Regions from separate parts of the Homo sapiens genome. Here region 1 is linked to region 2. Evidence: fine-mapped expression QTL. A gene starts in region 2. The other region holds a variant in brackets. All regions are shown on one strand. Distances are from middle to middle. Region 1 overlaps KIDINS220 (kinase D interacting substrate 220). Region 2 holds the start of KIDINS220 (kinase D interacting substrate 220).

What was found.
Region 1: its variant is fine-mapped to the expression of KIDINS220 in whole blood (INTERVAL, PIP above 0.99). The same link has a PIP of 0.9 or more in tibial nerve.

Annotation. Positions count from the first base shown.
Region 1 is chr2:8,730,730-8,736,103 of GRCh38, reverse strand. KIDINS220 (kinase D interacting substrate 220) reads left to right here. Exons shown (of 30, transcript NM_020738.4): 28 at 1,351-1,449; 29 at 2,424-2,660; 30 at 4,122-5,374. Among named protein-coding and RNA genes, the nearest start is that of ID2, 51 kb to the right of the region's middle. The variant C/G (reference allele first, on the strand shown) is at 2,136.
Region 2 is chr2:8,835,036-8,840,409 of GRCh38, reverse strand. KIDINS220 (kinase D interacting substrate 220) reads left to right here and starts at 2,797. Exons shown (of 30, transcript NM_020738.4): 1 at 2,797-2,930. RefSeq lists silencers at 2,621-2,670, 2,681-2,740.

The sequences.
Region 1 (5,374 bases), 100 kb after region 2:
CACCATTTTACTCATCTCAGCCAATTTTAGAAAGGTTTCAGATAATGTCAGTTTCCTTACAGAGCTGGCTCGTGCTAGTCCCTGTTTGCATGAGTCAAACACCGGCTTTTCCATGGATAAGCCCCACTTTCTCCTTCAGGCAGCTGGTTGGTGTCAGGAAAGAGCGGGGTCTCCCACACGAGTCCTTTGTGATGATTTTGTTCCCATCGGGGTAGTGGTTTTCTCCCCACTCAGCTCTTTGCTCCTAGACCCCGGCTTTCTGAAGCCCCTCAGAGCCGCTGGCCTCCTCCGTGCTTAGGGCTCCGCGGCATTGTTGCAGCAGGACCTCTGTCACAGACTTGCTGTGTATACTGTTTTCTTCAGGATTAACTTGGAAACTGAACATTCTATTGATTATAAACATAGCTATTTCATAAATTTGCCCCAGTTAATAAAGTCAGGTTTTACATTTTATAAAAGCAGTAAGCTACCTATTATTAATAAAGAAAATGCTGTTGTTTCATTTAGGGGAAACTAGAATTACAGGGAACCAAAAGTAATAACTTCCTTTTTTATGATTTTTTTTTTCTTTGAGATGGAGTCCTGCTATGTCACCCAGGCTGGAGTGCAGTGGCGTGGCCATGGCTCACTGCAACCTCCCGCCTCCTGGGTGCAAGCGATCCTCCTGCCTCAGCCTCCCAAGTAGCTGGGACTACAGGCATGTGCCACCACTCCCAGCTAATTTTTGTAGTTTTAATAGAGATGGAATTTCACCATGTTGGCCAGGCTGGTCTCGAACTCCTGACTTTAGGTGATCCACCCACCTCAGCCTCCCAAAGTTCTGGGATTACATGCGTGAGCCACCGCGCCGGGCCTTGTGAATTTAATAGACTGGAAAATTAGTGGGTGGGCATTCTTCATATCTGTATCTAATATAACGGATAAACAAGTTTGCCAGGCCTACTTCATTTAGAACGTTGTTAGTGACCAACACGCTTATGAGAACAGATGTCTTTGTCCCCTCCCAGCAGCTTGTGTTCATGTTCATATTTTCTAAGATTAGAAAACAAAAACTAACAGTTTTGTTGTTGCTCATGACAGCATAGGTAGTTTTGGAAATAGGAGGGTTAGTTCTTCGGTTGGTCCCAGAAAATGCCTAAGACATTTGGGAAAATATGAAGTGGCTGATGTTGTTCAAATTCAGCTTGTTTATTGTATTATTATATGGGATGATAACCTTTTTTTTGGTCAGCCTTTCTGGTCTCTAGAGACTTATTTAAAACTAAATATAAGCATACTTGGCAATCACTAGTAATTCAGAATATTTCACATTCTGTCTTTATACCCATAATTGTTTTAATTTTTACTCAGGCAAACATAAATGGCCGTGTGTTAGCTCAGTGTAACATTGATGAGCTGAAGAAAGAGATGAATATGAATTTTGGAGACTGGCACCTTTTCAGAAGCACAGTAAGATATTTGTAACATTGTGATGTTTACAACATTATTTTATGATAACATTCAAAATTATTTATAACATTGTAGAAAACCAGTATCAATAAGTACTGGCCTAAACTGGTATTTTTTTCATATTTTTTTAAATTTAAAAACTGCTTCTTACACTTATGTGCAATCCTGTGTTGTGGAAAATACACACAGCAGCACTTGGCAGCCTTTGCCTTTTTGGGCATTTCACTCAGAGATTTGGGGAAGAGGCCGCCTGCCGGTTCTTCATGCTTTCACCTGCCTTAACTCTCATCAGGCTCCTCAAAGCCTTCGAGGCCTTGACCTTCAGCATTCATCCTTATAGGGCTTGCATTGCCCAGGTTTAGCAAGAATCCTGTTAAGTCAGTTTACATGTGTGATCACCCTCAGTATTTGATCAAACGCCTCACTAACCCCCCCACCCCCAGGTGATGTCGGCTCACCCTGGCCATCGGCGTACCAAGAGTCCCCCACTCCTGCTGCCTCCCCTTAGTAATGTTCCATCCACGACCCCCACCCTGCCCCTTGGTGGTAGATCCCCACTCATTCGTGCTTATTCCGAGTTGGACTCCCTTCTGTAGTGAGACTGCTTACCCCTGTTGCCATAGTTCTGAATAAAATCTGGACCTACCGCCCTACTCCTGGCCAGCTCTGGTTTTGACACAAGCCAG[C/G]TGCATTTTTCTTTGTCCTCAAGTTAAGTTTTAAACAGAAGTAATAATTTAATGGACAAATTGCAGTGTAGTATATGTATGGTGGTTTCTACCATTGCTTCCTTTAGTATTAATGAACATGAAAGATAAGCTGATGTATAAAACAAATTCACTAGAAATTCACTTACCAGAAGTATGCTTTCTCATTGCTGTTGCAATAGCTTTATAATGTTTGGTATTTCTAAATATTTCTAAAGCTTCTAAAATATGATTTGTTAGTGTAAATATTTATGTTTTTCTTCTGTTAAGGTACTAGAAATGAGAAACGCAGAAAGCCACGTGGTCCCTGAAGACCCACGTTTCCTCAGTGAGAGCAGCAGTGGCCCAGCCCCGCACGGTGAGCCTGCTCGCCGCGCTTCCCACAACGAGCTGCCTCACACCGAGCTCTCCAGCCAGACGCCCTACACACTCAACTTCAGCTTCGAAGAGCTGAACACGCTTGGCCTGGATGAAGGTGCCCCTCGTCACAGTAATCTAAGTTGGCAGGTATTTATTGAATGGCATTTTTCATATTATTGAAGAATAAGCACACCGTTCAGTTCACTGAGATTATATGGGCATTTAGACAGTCATTCAGAAAATGCTTACTGAATACCTAAGTGAACAGGAGACAAGATGGAGGGCTCCCTGTACTCAAGGAGCTGCATCCATGTGGAGAGGGGCAGTCAGTGAAACAAACAAAAAAGTAGCTCATGTAGACATTGATGAGAGCTGAGATATCCATCAGGGTCACAGCATGCAGAGTCAATAGGGATTAGGCCACTTGAGCTAGGGTGGTCAGCAAATTCAGCCTTTCTCAGGCGATCTTCCTGTTGCATTCAGTAACTGTTGGTTGAAGTACATCTTCATTGGAACACTGGCCACATAGTGTCCCTTTGAGCACCATCCTTTGGTTTTCCAGGACGCCTGCACACCCTTCACGGATATTGGTTTCTTCTGGTCTGGCATTAGATGTAGGCGCGTTCTTCCTTTGGAGATTCTTAGAAGAAGGAGGCCAGGTGAGGGGTAGGGGTAGGGGCAGGGACAGAGCAAAGTGAGAGATGCAGGAGGAGTAGCGGGAGTGAGGAGAGCGCAGGAGGAAAAGCAGAGCAGGGTGTGGAGAACAACGGGGGAGGAGGCACAGCGGGCGGCAGCGAGTAACACTGAGTGGGCAGGGCAGGGCAGCGGTGAGGAGGAGCAGCGCCTTGGGGAAGGAAGAAAATGTCCTATTTCCTTGAGAAGGTCCCCAACAAATTCACTTTGCTCCTTCTTTTTTGTTTTAGCCTTTGCTCTTGACCCTTCTTAAACTTTCTTGATTCTTCTCCTTCTTTTTCCTCATCTGTACTTTTTGCTCCTTGTTTCTTAGCTATTCTGGGATCTGAAGCAAATTCTAATTCTAAAACTTAATATTGGAAATAAACTTGTAAAACTACTTTATTTTTCTGTTTACTAAGGCCCAACTATTGGCCTCATTGCATTTTATATTTTATCAATGAAGTTGACTTTGGCCTTAAATAAAAGCTAAACGTTTGAAGTTATAAAAACAAGTGCTGTGGCCGAGCATGTGGGACATGCCCATAGTCCCAGCTGCTCAGGAGGCTGAGGCGGGAGGATTGCTTGAGTCCAGTAGTTTGAATCTAGCCTGGGCAACACAGCAAGATCCTGTCTCTTAAAAATGAAATAAAAACCAGAAACAAGTGCTAAGATTATTTGTTAATACAGTGTTTAATCATACTTTTAAATATTAACAATAAACTGATTTTATTAAAATTTATAGAAAGCTTTCTAGTAACAGCATTATAAGGTCACAGCTTTTGTTAATCTGTGTTATGTAGAATTCTTTTAAAAGAATTTGATGTTTTGATGACTTTTTAAATGGTTAGTGTACATATATATTTCCTAAGCTGATGTTTATGCCTTTTTTCTTCTTATTTGAATTTTTAAATTATTTTTTTTCTGTCTTCACAGTCACAAACTCGCAGAACCCCAAGTCTTTCGAGTCTCAATTCCCAGGATTCCAGTATTGAAATTTCAAAGCTTACTGATAAGGTGCAGGCCGAGTATAGAGATGCCTATAGAGAATACATTGCTCAGATGTCCCAGTTAGAAGGGGGCCCCGGGTCTACAACCATTAGTGGCAGATCTTCTCCACATAGCACATATTACATGGGTCAGAGTTCATCAGGGGGCTCTATTCATTCAAACCTAGAGCAAGAAAAGGGGAAGGATAGTGAACCAAAGCCCGATGATGGGAGGAAGTCCTTTCTAATGAAGAGGGGAGATGTTATCGATTATTCATCATCAGGGGTTTCCACCAACGATGCTTCCCCCCTGGATCCTATCACTGAAGAAGATGAAAAATCAGATCAGTCAGGCAGTAAGCTTCTCCCAGGCAAGAAATCTTCCGAAAGGTCAAGCCTCTTCCAGACAGATTTGAAGCTTAAGGGAAGTGGGCTGCGCTATCAAAAACTCCCAAGTGACGAGGATGAATCTGGCACAGAAGAATCAGATAACACTCCACTGCTCAAAGATGACAAAGACAGAAAAGCCGAAGGGAAAGTAGAGAGAGTGCCGAAGTCTCCAGAACACAGTGCTGAGCCGATCAGAACCTTCATTAAAGCCAAAGAGTATTTATCGGATGCGCTCCTTGACAAAAAGGATTCATCGGATTCAGGAGTGAGATCCAGTGAAAGTTCTCCCAATCACTCTCTGCACAATGAAGTGGCGGATGACTCCCAGCTTGAAAAGGCAAATCTCATAGAGCTGGAAGATGACAGTCACAGCGGAAAGCGGGGAATCCCACATAGCCTGAGTGGCCTGCAAGATCCAATTATAGCTCGGATGTCCATTTGTTCAGAAGACAAGAAAAGCCCTTCCGAATGCAGCTTGATAGCCAGCAGCCCTGAAGAAAACTGGCCTGCATGCCAGAAAGCCTACAACCTGAACCGAACTCCCAGCACCGTGACTCTGAACAACAATAGTGCTCCAGCCAACAGAGCCAATCAAAATTTCGATGAGATGGAGGGAATTAGGGAGACTTCTCAAGTCATTTTGAGGCCTAGTTCCAGTCCCAACCCAACCACTATTCAGAATGAGAATCTAAAAAGCATGACACATAAGCGAAGCCAACGTTCAAGTTACACAAGGCTCTCCAAAGATCCTCCGGAGCTCCATGCAGCAGCCTCTTCTGAGAGCACAGGCTTTGGAGAAGAAAGAGAAAG
Region 2 (5,374 bases):
CTGACCATTTAATCAGGGGGAAGATGACTTCCAACTTCCGGTTTTGGTGGTTAGGGTTGGAGCCAGGTCTCTGAAACTAGTGACGCAGGAGCAAGGGTGGGTGGGAGGGGTATGGGTGAGTCCAGTGGGGACAGAACTCTGCAACCCCAACAATTCATGGGAGGTGGAATCTGAGAAGGAGCTGCCAGAAGAATGGGATAGAAGCCCAGGAGAAGAAATATTTCCAGGAGGGGGCCGGGCGCGGTGGCTCACGCCTGTAATCCCAGCACTTTGGGAGGCTGAGGCGGGCGGATCATGAGGTCAGGAGATCGAGACCATCCTGGCTAACACGATGAAACCCCGTCTCTACTAAATATACAAAAAATTAACCGACCGCGGTGGCGGGCGCCTGTAGTCCCAGCTACTCGGGAGGCTGAGGCAGGAGAATGGCGTGAATCCGGGAGGTAGAGCTTGCAGTGAGTTGAGATCGCACCACTGCACTCCAGCCTGGGCAACAGAACGAGACTCTGTCTCCAAAAAAAAAAAAAAGAAATATTTCCAGGAGGGAGTGCTAAACTGTGCTACCAAGAGAGGGAGGGAAGAGGATGAGGGAGGACAGAAGGAGGACTAGGGGAAGTGGTGGGAGGATTGGAGAGGCTTGGGTGGCTGGAGGAAGACGGGAGGACAGAGGGGGGGATGGGAGGAAGAGGGGTGTGGGGAGAGTTGGGGGAGGATGTGGGGGCAGAGGGTGGAGGAAGCAGTGAGAGGATAAGAGGAGGATGGAGGGGATTGAGGGAAACAGCTGGAGGCTGAGGAAAGATGGGGTTGGGGGGTGGTGGGAAGGGTAGTGGATGCTGGGGGAGGCAGCCTTCTATTTCCATAGGACAAATTTGATACTCTTCTAATCCCTTCAGTGGCCTTCTATTTCCCTAGAACAAATTCCCAAATGGTACTTAACACTCAAGGCCCTTCAGAGGCTGACCCCTGCTCCATCTACTGCCCCCTCCCATGCTGCCACCCCAGCCCCAAGGCTGGCAAATATTGACAGTTCCTGGAACTTTGGGCCACCCTCCTTCTCATCTCTATTCTTTTCCAAAGTGTTGTTCCCCGACCTGGACATTCTTCCTAGCCCCATCCAACTGATGTGATGGACAAACTATACTTCAGATACAGCTGGAGGTGCGGGGGGGGGGGGTCCCTTCTTTTGTGAACCTTCCTAGTGGACCCCAAGCAGAGTTGGTAACTCCATCCTCTGTGCTTACCTCCTTACTGCACTGTGCCTAGGACATGGTCAGGACTCAGAAAGGCTGTGCTAAATAACGCACATTTAACCTGTTTCCTTGTCTTCTCCCCTACTCTAAGGTTGGCTTCATCCTTATATCCTACTGATATGGTTTGGCTCTGTGACCCCACCCAAATCTCATCTCGAATTGTATTCCCCATAATCCCCACGTGTCAAGGGAGGGACTTGGTCGGGGGTGATTGGATCACGTCAGCGGTTTCCCCCGTGCTGTTCTCGTGATAGTGAGTGAATTCTCACGAGATCTGTTGGATGTAAAAGGGGCTTTTGACCCTTTTGCTGGGCACCTCTCTTCCTGCAGCCATGTGACGAAGGACGTGTTTGCTTCCCTTTCCGCCATGATTTTAAGTTTCCTGAGGCTTCTCCAGCCATGCAGAACTGTGAGTCAATTAAACCTCTTTTCTTTATAAATTACCCTGTCTCAGGTGGTTCTTTATAGCAGTGTGAAAACGGGCTAATACACCTACCATACTTCTAACCCCCAACGCCTGACCCACCCTGCCCTGTTTACAACAGTGGCTGGCCTTAGCAAGTCATTATCGAAGAAATCACACCATTTAGGACTCCACTGTACACGTTGGGGTGTTCGCTCCTTGTTTCATGAGGGGCACACCAACTTCCGTTTTTGTTTGTTTGTTTGTTTGTTTGGAGATAGGATCTTGCCCTGTTGCCCTGGCTGAAGTGCAGTGGTGTGATCTCAGCTCACTGCAGCCTCGAACTCCTGGGCTCAAGTGATCCTCTCACCTCTGTCTCCTAAGTGGCTGGGACTACAGGTGTGCAACACCACGCCTGGCTAAGTTTTGTATTTTTGTATTTTTTTTTTTTTTTTTTTTTTTTGTAGAGAAGAGGTCTCTCCATGTTGCCCAGGCTGGTTTCAAACTCCTGAGCTCAAGTGATCCTCCGTCTTGGCCTCCCAAAATGCTGGGATTACAGGAGTGAGCCATTGTCCCCACCCCGCACCAACTTCTGATGAAGTCAGGCTCCTTATTGGCTTTTTCCTGAGTTGCCAGGTTGACACATTGGTGGGTGCTTTTCGATGGTTCGCAACCTACGCACGTCGTAATCATCCTTGGACCTTTTCAAAAATCAAGATTGACGCTTGTTGGCAGCAAGGCCTAGGAATGTGGAGGCTGAAGGAGGTGAGGGGAGGTGCTGGGAGACCTGGAAGGAGTGTGAACTACAGGCCCCGCGAAAGGCAGAGGTCTCGCTCCTGGATCCGGAAGAAGGCTGCTGAGCGGGCTTTCATTTCTTATGTATGTGCAGTTTCTTCTGAAGATATAATTGATGTTTATTTCTCTGAATAAGCTTGATTATAATGGAAAATAGGGATAATAAATTAACTGTAATAAGAGTGACATTGACACTGAAAAACCTTGCCTGGGGCGCTTGTCCTGGGTGTCCCCGCCCCGCGGCCCCTCCAGCCCCGCCTGCTCTACGCCCCGCCCCGCCCCTCCCCTCCACGCCCAGGGGGCGTGGCAACCCGGAGTCCCTCCCCTACCCAGGGCACGTGATCTGTCAGTTCGCGGAGAGGGAAGAATATGGCCGCCGGGTGTGGTGAGGGCGACGCGCTTGCAGTCGCCGTCTCTTGCTTCCCCGTCCTCTGACATCGCCTGCAGCCGAGCGGGCCCGTTCCGCCGGAGCTGAGGACCAGGTTGGGAGACCGTCAGTGTGGAGGCCGGTCCGCGAAGCTTTGCCGCGGGATTGGGGAGGAGTCGGGGGCGAGGCCGGGCTCGGGGAGTCGGGCGGGGAGGTGGGACAGCCGAGGAGTGCGCGGAAGGGGCGAGCTCGGACCGGGGGTCCCGGGGAGGGCATGGCGCGGGCCCCGGACGCTCGGGCCCCGGCTTTCGGGGCGAGTCCGCGTTTCCTGGAGCGCCGGGAAGGTCTCCGACCTTGGAGTCTCTGGTGGTCTGTCTCCTGAGGGGCCCCTCGGGTGGGTTGGGGTGAAGGGTGTTGGTAAAACCGTTTTTTTTCTTTTGCCAAGCAGCCTCTGGCACATCCACCACCTTGAGAGCCCCCTTAGCTGGTACCGCTAGTCTTTCTAGGTTCCTCCTCCTAGGCTTCCACGGGCCGGGAGGTGTTGTTTTCTCCCTTGCTTTTATCGTGGGCTCCATTGCTCCATTGTCCTGTGCAGGCTTTTAAACGCCTGGCAAAATAGTGCAAGCCATTGATTTCCACGCCTCCAAGATTTATTTATAGGGAAATAATTTCTTCATCACTTTGTAATGTTGGAATTTTTATTCTTTCAAGTTGACAGGTTTAAACCGATGAAAAATTTTTTTATGAATAACTATGCAGCCATCTCTGCTCCCTATGGGCGCTTGTTAAAAATGTAGATTTCTTAGCGTTTTAGAGATTCCCATTCCTTCGGCCTGAGGTGTGGCTCGGGAATCACCCCTTCAGGTTCGTTCCTGTCCACATTTTGACAACACTGAGGACCAGACATCTACACCTTTTTAAACCACCGTGGGGTATTGAGTGCAGAGCCCAGGTTGGGAAATGCCGTGGCCAGGTGTGTTCTTTGTTCTCTTCTAGCTTTACTAGCATGGACTACTTTCATCAGAATCATTTTGGGGTGCTTGTTAAAATGTCAGTTTCTGGGCACCACCCCAGATCTAGGGAATGGGATTCTCCCGGGGAGGAGCTCAAGGGATATGTGTATTTGACAAGCTTCCCAAATAATTTTGGTGCACACAAGTTTGAGAATCCTTGTTCTACACCCTTTGTGTGAATAATTTCCAGATCATTCACACACAGTGTGAACGGTATCTTTTTCCAAGTATTGGGTGGGTTTCTCCAACCTAGTTCTTTTGGGACACTTCAAATTCAGCCTGGCCAAAGCCCCATTCGCCCAGCTGGGGTGGTGGAAGGGAGGAGGCATAACTTAAGTAGAGAAAAGTCTGCTCTTTCTCCTGCTTTTTTTTTTTTGGTTAAGGGCAGCTCCATTCTTCAGTCACCTATGCTGGGCATCTGGTCATCTTCCACCTGTTTTCTTTTCCAACCAGTCACATAGTTTTATCTTTATATCCAGAATATCTCTTCTGGATATTTTGGTAGTTCAGAAAGTTCAAATGTCAGGGATTTTATATTTTTCAAGTTAATATCCCTCATTTCTTCTCTATTCCCACTGCCTCTCTTGTGTACTGTCTGGTGATTCCTTGACTGGTATCTAGGGCCCTGATTCTTTGTATTTTTCCAGTCTGGGTCACATACACTGCCAGATTAATTTTTATAGGATCATGTATGAATGTGCCATCCCCTTCTTCCTGCTTTTGCTCAAGAACGGTCAGTTTCTCCATTTTATGTGCTACTGTATTTGTCAGGGCTGTTTAGAAGACAGTAGAAACTTAAACCTTTTACTTCAAGGAAAAGGAGATAATAGGATTGAATGAGAGTCAGAAAGAAGTCAGGATCCCAGGTACCTCCATTTTCTACATCTCCCTGGGGCAACTTTTTTTTTTTTTTTTTTTTTTTGAGACAGGGTCTGGCTCTGTTGCCCAGGCTGGAGTGCAGGTGGTGTGATCTTGGCTCACTGCAGCCCTGACCTCCTCTTAGGGGCCACATTTGTTCTCTTACTTAGGAGGAGTCTCTTTTCTGTTCATATCTGTTGTATTCTCTCTTTGCTGATTGGCTGTCTCAGAACTGTATCATTTTATGTGTGACCCATATTGATTGGCCCAGTCTCTGGTTTCTAATTCCCAGTTCTAGAGAGAGAAGTCTGATTGGCCCAGCTTATCTTTTTCAACAGTTTCATGCCACAGATCATATGCCCATCCCTGGGAATGGCTGATGCTAGAGAACATGGCTGTTGAGGGTAGCAGGGGCTGTGGGTGGGCAAAGTCCTTCAGAAGAGGTATCTTTAGCATACCTATGCAGTTATTTAATTTGATGGTTATCTATTAAGTTTCTACCTGTTCTAGATCTGTAATAGGTTCTGGGGATGTAAGAATGAAGGAGAGAGACAGCCCTTAATAAATTAGTTCAAGGCTGGGCATGCAGGCTCACACCTGTAATCTCAGTGCTTTGGGAGGCTAAGGCAGGAGGATCACTTCAGGCTAGGAGTTCAAGAGCAGCCTCGGCAATATAGCAAGTCCTGTC